2 linked regions of the Homo sapiens genome follow. The protein of the gene in region 1 interacts with the protein of each later gene in a pairwise test. Each region holds a gene or a part of one and is shown in the gene's direction. Other genes may lie near its edges. The genes, in order: FRS2 and YJU2.

Region 1 (3,821 bases):
CATCAGTTGTCTAGATGAGGAGCTTATTGACTCCCTGGTTCACTTGGGTGGGCAGGCGGCTGTGGGGGAGGGACGGGGGGGGGTGTGGGGGTGGGGAACTTAAGGTGCAAACCTAGCCTAGGTGACTGTTAAATTAAGGCTTAACATTTGTTTCTTTTGAGTGTTTTTGGTTGCGTAATTTTAAAAGTTGGGAATGCTATAGAAATATTTAAATTCTATTAGAATGTCCAAGGCAAAATGTTCAGGTTAAGTAGAAATAGCTTGGACCCTCTGTTAATTTTAAAGAAAACTGTGGGTTTGCTGCTTTAGATATTAAAATGATATGGGTTTATAGAGTTATGTTGTGTATCATTGTTGCTGGTAAATAAAAAATGTTTAATTCATTTATTTTAACAGTGCTTAAATTTTTCTCTTAAAGTACTCCCAATGGCAGAAATGTGGATGAATAGTACCCTCAGAAGTCTAGGAATGCAGCCCAAAGTGTGCCTGCTATAAATTGAAGTTTTTGATGCCTGTAGGGTTTTATATTTTAAAATTTATATAAATGTTGCATTTTGCTATCTTACATGCATGTCGACAGTATTTTAAAATACTTTTTTTTTTTTTTTTTTTTTGGTTTGAGACGGAGTCTCGCTGTGTCCCCCAGGTTGGAGTGCAGTGGCGCGATCTCAGCTCACTGCAAGCTCCGCCTCTCCTGGGTTCACGCCATTCTCCTGCCTCAGCCTCACCAGTAGCTGGGACTACAGGCGCCCGCCAACACGCCTGGCTAATTTTTTGTATTTTTAGTAGAAACGGGGTTTCACCGTGTTAGCCAAGATGGTCTCAATCTCCTGACCTCGTGATCTGCCTGCCTCGGCCTCCCAAAGTGCTGGGATTACAGGCGTGAGCCACCGCGCCCGGCCTAAAATACTCTTAACTAAAATTGATGCTCCTAAGAGAGAGTGCAGTGTTCATCCTGCGGCTTTTTATATCCCTATGACATGGCTTTATCACTGGTTAGTAGTACTGTGCTTAAATATTTAATAGTAGCTTATTTATTTATTTATTTATTTATTTATTTATTTATTTATTTATTTTTTGAGACAGAGTCTCGCTCTGTTGCCCAGGCTGGAGTGCAGTGGCATGATCCTGGCTCACTGCAAGCTCCGCCTTCTGGGTTCACGCCATTCTCCTGCCTCAGCCTCCCGAATAGCTGGGACTACAGGCGCCCACCACCACGCCCGGCTAATTTTTTGTATTTTTTAGTAGAGACGGGGTTTCACCATGTTAGCCAGGATGGTCTCAATCTCCTGACCTTGTGATCCGCCCACCTCGGCCTCCCAAAGTGCTGGAATTACAGGTGTGAGCCACCGCGCCCGGCTGTTTATTTATTTTTAAACCCTGTGTCTGATGGTTTTTGTTGGAACATAGGAGATGGTAAACAATTTCTGATACTTCCTATGTATTTTTAATAAATAGCAAGCTGTTTTAAATACTACTAAGAAGCTGTAGTTTCATAGAAATAAAATGACTTTTAAGGGGGATTTAATCCGTTAAAATTTTTTTTTCTATTTAAGATTTTAAAATTATCAATGTATTTCTATCATAATAAAATATGGTAGTACTAAGAGCTTTCTGAAATGATGGAAATGTTCTATGTCTATGCTGTTCAATATGGTGGCCCCTATATAGCTTCTGAGCACTTAAAATATATCTAGTGTTATAGGAGAACTAAATTTTTAATTGAATTTAATTTTAATTAATTTAAATATGAATACCCACATGGGGCTGGTGGCTACTGTATTAGTGCAGCTCTATAAGGTTAGGAAGACGAGAGAGAAGAGAGATCACACATCTTCATGACACCTCTCACCTCACATGTAGGCAGATTAGGCACTCAGTAAGTATTTGTTGAATGAAATAATTCATCTTTTTCTTTGAATTTTGAAGACCAGTGTTTGTGAAGTATTCTAAATTTTTGGGGAGGAGCCATAGATTTTTGAATTTTTTTCTTCTATATTGATTTTCAGAATTTACTTTTATTCTTACAAAGACATACATCATTATGTGTGTGTGTGTGTGTGTGTGTGTGTGTGTGTGTGTGTAAAGAATTATATAATGAACTACCATGTATGACCAACCACTTTAAAAAACAGAACACTGCCAGCACCTTTGATGGCCGTTCATGTTTCTCACTACTTGTGATCTCTGACATACTCTTTAAGTAACCGCCATCTGAATTTTATATTAATCATTACCTTGCTTTTTGTTTTAATTTTATATGAATGTCTTTTTTTTTTTTTTAACATTTCCCTCTGTCTTGAAGTTTGGAAGTTAAACTCTGTGTAGCTTTATTTTAGTTCTCCCTGACCTCCAACAAATGAGATACTTTTGTTTTAAACACTGTTACTTTGATTTGCCTATACACTGTATTTGCAGATGTCTGCTTATTCTCATTTGCATCTGAGACCTCTGATCTAGGACCATTTTTCTTTGTGTGAAGTACATCTTTTAGAATTTTCCCTAGGGAGGGTGTGTTGGAAAACTTTTTGTTGGAAAATAACTTTTTCTTAGTCTCATTCCTGAAACTGGTTTTCCTGAATATATATTCTAGATTAGCAGTTGTTTTTTCTTTGTTCATTATAGATTTTATTTCATTATCTTCTGGCTTTTATTGCTGTTGAAAAATACACAGTGTGATTGACAGTCCTTTACAGTTAATCTGTTGTTTCTTTTTTTTTTTTTTTTTCTTTTTTTTTGAGACCAGTCTTGCTCTGTTGCCAGGCTGGAGTGCAGTGGCGCGATCTCAGCTCACTGCAGCCTCTGCCTCCTGGGTTCAAGCAATTCTCCTGCCTCAGCCTCCTGAGTAGCTGGGATTACAGGTGTGTACCACCACGCCTGGCTAATTTTTGTATTTTCAGTAGAGATGGGGTTTCACTATGTTGGCTAGGATGGTCTCCATCTCCTGACCTCATGATCCACCTGCCTCAGCCTCCCAAAATGCTGGGATTACAGGTGCAAGCCACTGTGCCTGGACTAATCTGTTGTTTCTTTATGGCTAGTTTTAGAACTGCTACTTTGTTCTTGGTGATCTGCATTTTCATTTTTATGTTTGGAAGTTGATTTCTTTTTATTTATCGTGCTTGGTATTAACTAGGTTTTCAAATCTGAAGATTAGTGTCTTTCAACAATTTTGGAGAATTTTTGGCCTTTTTCTTAAATTTTGTCTTCCATATTTTCTGTTTGGAACTTGTATTTGAAGTATGTTAGATCTTCTTACTCTACCTCCGTGTCTCTTAACCTGTCTTTTATATTGTCCATTTCATTATCTTTGTGTATTGTATTGTGTTCTGGATACTTTTCTTGAAGTTAGCTACTTCTCTCTTCAGCTGTGTTCAACCAGTTTATTGAATTTAAAAACTTTTTATTTAACTATTATGCCCATTTTTTTCATTATGGTTAAATACATATAACATAGAATTTACCATTTAACCATTTTTAAGTGTACAGTTCGGTGGCATTAAGTGCATTCACATCATTGTGCATCTGTCACCACTACTGATCTCCAGAACTTTTTCATCATCGTGAACCAAAACTTGTACCCATTAGACAGTAATTCCTTATTTCCTCTTTTCTCTAGCTCCTGGCAACCACTATTTGAGTTTCTGCCTCTACAAATTTGACTATTCTAGGTACTTCATGTAAGTGGAATCATAAAATATTTGTCTTTTTGTGTCTGGTTTATTTTACTTAGCATGTTTTCTAGGTTAGTCTATGTTATAGCATGTTCTTTGAGTTTTACAAATTTATGTTAGAGATGGGGTGTTGCTATATTGCCCAGG
Region 2 (3,821 bases), on another chromosome or scaffold:
TGAGAGGATTGCTTGAACCCGGGAGGCTGAGGTTGCAGTGAGCCATGATCCTGCCGCTGCACTCCGGCCTGGGCAACAGCACGAGACCCTGTCCCCAAAAAAATAAAAAACATAGTGTTACTATTAGCATTTAGACCAAAGGTAGATTTCAGTTTTTCTGCTAATGTCACTTTTCTGTTCCAGTGTGTAATTTAAGATACCAGGGTGTATTTAGCCTCTCTATTCAATAAACAAAAACAGGGGCATGCTGTATACATATTTGTACATGTGATTTATAATCAAAGAAAAGGTGTTAATAAATACAAAGGGCAGAAATCACAACATGTGCAGAACCTTGGAGATTTTTTTTTTTTTTTGAGACAGGGTCTCACTTTGTAGCCAAGGCTGGAGTACAGTGGTGTGATCTCAGCCTCCCAGGTTCATGTGATTCTCATGCCTCAGCCTCCAGAGTAGCTGGGATTACAGGCATGCACCACCTTGCCCTGCCTAATTTTTTGTATTTTTAGTAGAGACAGGGTTTCTCCATGTTGGCCAGGCTGGTCTTGAATACCTGACCTCCAGTGATCCACCTGCCTCATTGGAGAGTTTGTTTGCAGTCATGTTAAGGGTAGGGAGTGGAGGATGCAGGGAGGCAGTGGGCAGATGAGAAGAGTCTTAAAGTCCATGCCAGGGAGTTGGGCATTTTTGCCCATGGAGATGGGAGGAGCACTAGGAAGAAATCTCACCAGTCAAAGCAATAAGACAAGAAAAAGAGAAGGTAGTAGAACCAGTAAAAATCAGAGAGAAGGGGCCCTGATCTGCTGGTGGTACTTTAGAAGATTCTAGTGCCTGGGGATGTAGGAGCTGATGTCTGTCTATCCTCCCTGCAGACAGACCCTGAAAACACAGACTACACCATGGAGCATGGAGCCACGCGGAATTTCCAGGCTGAGAAGCTCCTGGAGGAGGAGGAGAAGAGGGTGCAGAAGGAGCGGGAGGACGAGGAGCTGAACAACCCCATGAAGGTGAGTCGGGGGCCATGTAGGTGTTCATGGGCGCTGTGTGTGTGGGTGTGTGTGTGTGCCAATGGTTGTGCCCTTCCTGCCTCAGGTCCCCAAGGAAGGAAGATGGGGTGGGGGGCGTGGTTGGTAAAACTTTAAGATGTCCCCAGGAGGCCAGGCATAGTGGCTCATGCCTGTAATCTCAGCACTTTGGGAGGCTGAGGCGGGAGGATCACTTGAGGTCAGGAGTCCTAGACCAGCCTGGCCAATGTGGCGAAACCCTGTTCCTACTAAAAATTTTAAAACTTAACACTGGGCGCAGTGGCTCACACCTGTAATCCCAGCACTTTTGGAGGCCGAAGTGGGTGGGTCACGAGGTCAGGAGTTTGAGACCAGCCTGACCAACATGGTGAAACCCCGTCTCTACTAAAAATACAAAAATTAGCCAGGCATGGTGGCACGCTTCTGGAATTACAGCTACTCAGGAGGCTGAGGCAGGAGAATCGCTTGAACCGGGGAGGCAGATGTTGCAGGAAGCCGAGATGGCGCCACTGCACTCCAGCCTGGGTGACAGAGTGAGATTCTGTCTCCAAAAAAAAAAAAAAAAAATTAGTCAAGCATGGTGGCGCATGCCTGTAATCTCAGCTACTTGGGAGGCTGAGGCAGGAGAATTGCATGAACCCGGGAGGCAGAGGTTGCAGTGAGCCGAGATCAAACCACTGCACTCCAGCCTGGGCAGCAAAGCAAGACTCTGTCTCAAAAAAAATAAATAAATAAAAGAAATTATGTTCACTTCCAATAGGACAATTTTGTATTTTCTCAGAAATATTAAAAGGAGCCATGCATGGTGGCTTGAACCTGTAGTCCCAGCTACTTTAGGGGTTGAGACAGGAGGATCACTTGAGTCTAGGAGTCAAAGACCAGCCTGGGCAACATAGTGAGACTCTGTCTCTATAAAACATTAAAAAATTAGCCAGGTGCTTGCCAGGCGTGGTGGCTCACACCTGTAATCGCAGCACTTTGGGAGGCCAAGGCAGGTGGATCACAAGGTCAGGAGTTCAAGACCAGCCTGGCCAAGAGGGTGAAACCCCGTCTCTACTAAAAATACAAAAAATTAGCCGGGCATGGTGGCAGACACCTGTAATCCCAGCTACTCGGGAGGCTGAGGCAGAGAATTGCTTGAACTCAGGAGGCAGAGGCTGCAGTGAGCTGAGATCATGCCACTGCACTCCAGCCTGGGTGACAGAGCAAGATTCTGTGTCAAAAAAAAAAAAAAAAAAAAAATCAGCCAAGTGCTTTGGGAGGCTGAGGCAGGCGGATCACCTGAGGTCAGGAGTTCAAGACCAGCTTGGCCAACACGGCGAAACCCTGTCTCTACTAAAAATACAAAAATTAACCAGGCGTGGTGGCACGCGCCTATAATCCAAGCTACTCAGGAGGCTGAGGCAGGAGAATTGCTTGAACCCAGGAGGCGGAGGTTGCAGTGAGCCAAGATCGCGCCATTGCACTTCAGCCTGGGCAACAAGAGTAAAACTCTGTCTCAACAACAACAACAAAAATTAGGCAGGTGTACTGGTGTGCACCTGTGGTCCCACCTACTAGGGAGGCTGAGGCGGGAGGATCACTTGAGCCCAGGAAGTTGAGGCTGCAGTTAGCTATGATCACATCACTGCACTCCAGCCTGGAAGACAGCAAGACTGTCGCAAAAAAAAAAAAATATATATATATATATATATATATATGTACACACACATATACATATATATACATACACATATATATATAAAACAGATTTTTAAATGACTGTGTTCCCTGCTGTCCCCTCCTGCTTCCATATTTCCCATCCATTCTTATCTATTCCTGGACCCACCCACCCCTGCCAAATGTGAGTTTTCTGAGCAAGCCACATCAGACCAGATACAACATTTTCCATGGCCATGCAGAGCAACAGGGAGGGAAATGAGCCTTGGCAAGGGTTTGGTGTGTGCCTGGGCCTGTCGCACTGCTGTCTGTGTGTGAATTTAGTTACCTCCACACTGACAGCAAGGGGCTCTTACCCTGGTGTTAGTCAGCTATTGCTACATAACAGGTTATCCCAAAACTTAGTGACTGAAAACAACAAACATTTATTATCCCACAGTTTTTGAGAGTCAGGCATCCAGAAGCAGCTGAGCTGGATGGTTGTGGCTTGGGGGCTCCCATGAGGTTGCAGTCAAGGTGTTGGCCAGGGCAGTATCATCTGAAGGCTGGACTGGGGCTGGAGGAGCCACTCGCAAACTGGCTCCCTCTACTGGCTGTTGGCTGTCAGCCTCAGTTCCTCGCTGTGTGGGGAGCTGCTTGAGCAACCTCACAACATGGCAGCTGCGTACCCCAGAGCATGTGACCCAAGAGTGAGAGCAAGGAGGAAGGCCTGTGCTTTTACATCCTAGTCTCAGAAGTTACGTGCCATTATTTCTGTCATATTCCATTAGAGCAAGTAGCTTGTCCAGCCCCTGCTCAAGGGGAGGGGAGTCACCTCCACCCCTTAAATGGAGGAGCATCAGAGAGTTTGTGGACATACTTTTAAACTGTCAGAATTGCCATTTTTCCAAAGGGTAAATACAACAAGGTCACAGCACTGGGAAGCAGCCAGGCAGGATTCACTCCCAACCTGCCTGGCTCCAAAGCCACTTCTCAGGGACCCGTGGCCACCAGACTCGCCTCCCTCAGCCTCAGTTTCCGTTTCTGTAAAATGGGGGTTGTGAGGATTAAATGAGATGGCATATGGAAACCTCTTAGCCCAGGGCCCGGTGTACAGTAGGTGCTCAGGTTGTCTTTTACAATTTTTCCTTAATATTATTA

Evidence for each region.
Region 2: the proteins of FRS2 (region 1) and YJU2 interact in a two-hybrid assay, tested with the Homo sapiens proteins (one large-scale study listed by BioGRID).

What each region holds. Positions count from the first base shown.
Region 1 is NC_000012.12:69,476,680-69,480,500, forward strand, and holds part of FRS2 (fibroblast growth factor receptor substrate 2), read left to right. Parts: intron 1-3,619; exon of another isoform or gene 3,620-3,680; intron 3,681-3,821. UniProt on the Homo sapiens protein: Adapter protein that links activated FGR and NGF receptors to downstream signaling pathways.
Region 2 is NC_000019.10:4,253,486-4,257,306, forward strand, and holds part of YJU2 (splicing factor YJU2), read left to right. Parts: intron 1-869; coding exon 870-1,004; intron 1,005-3,821.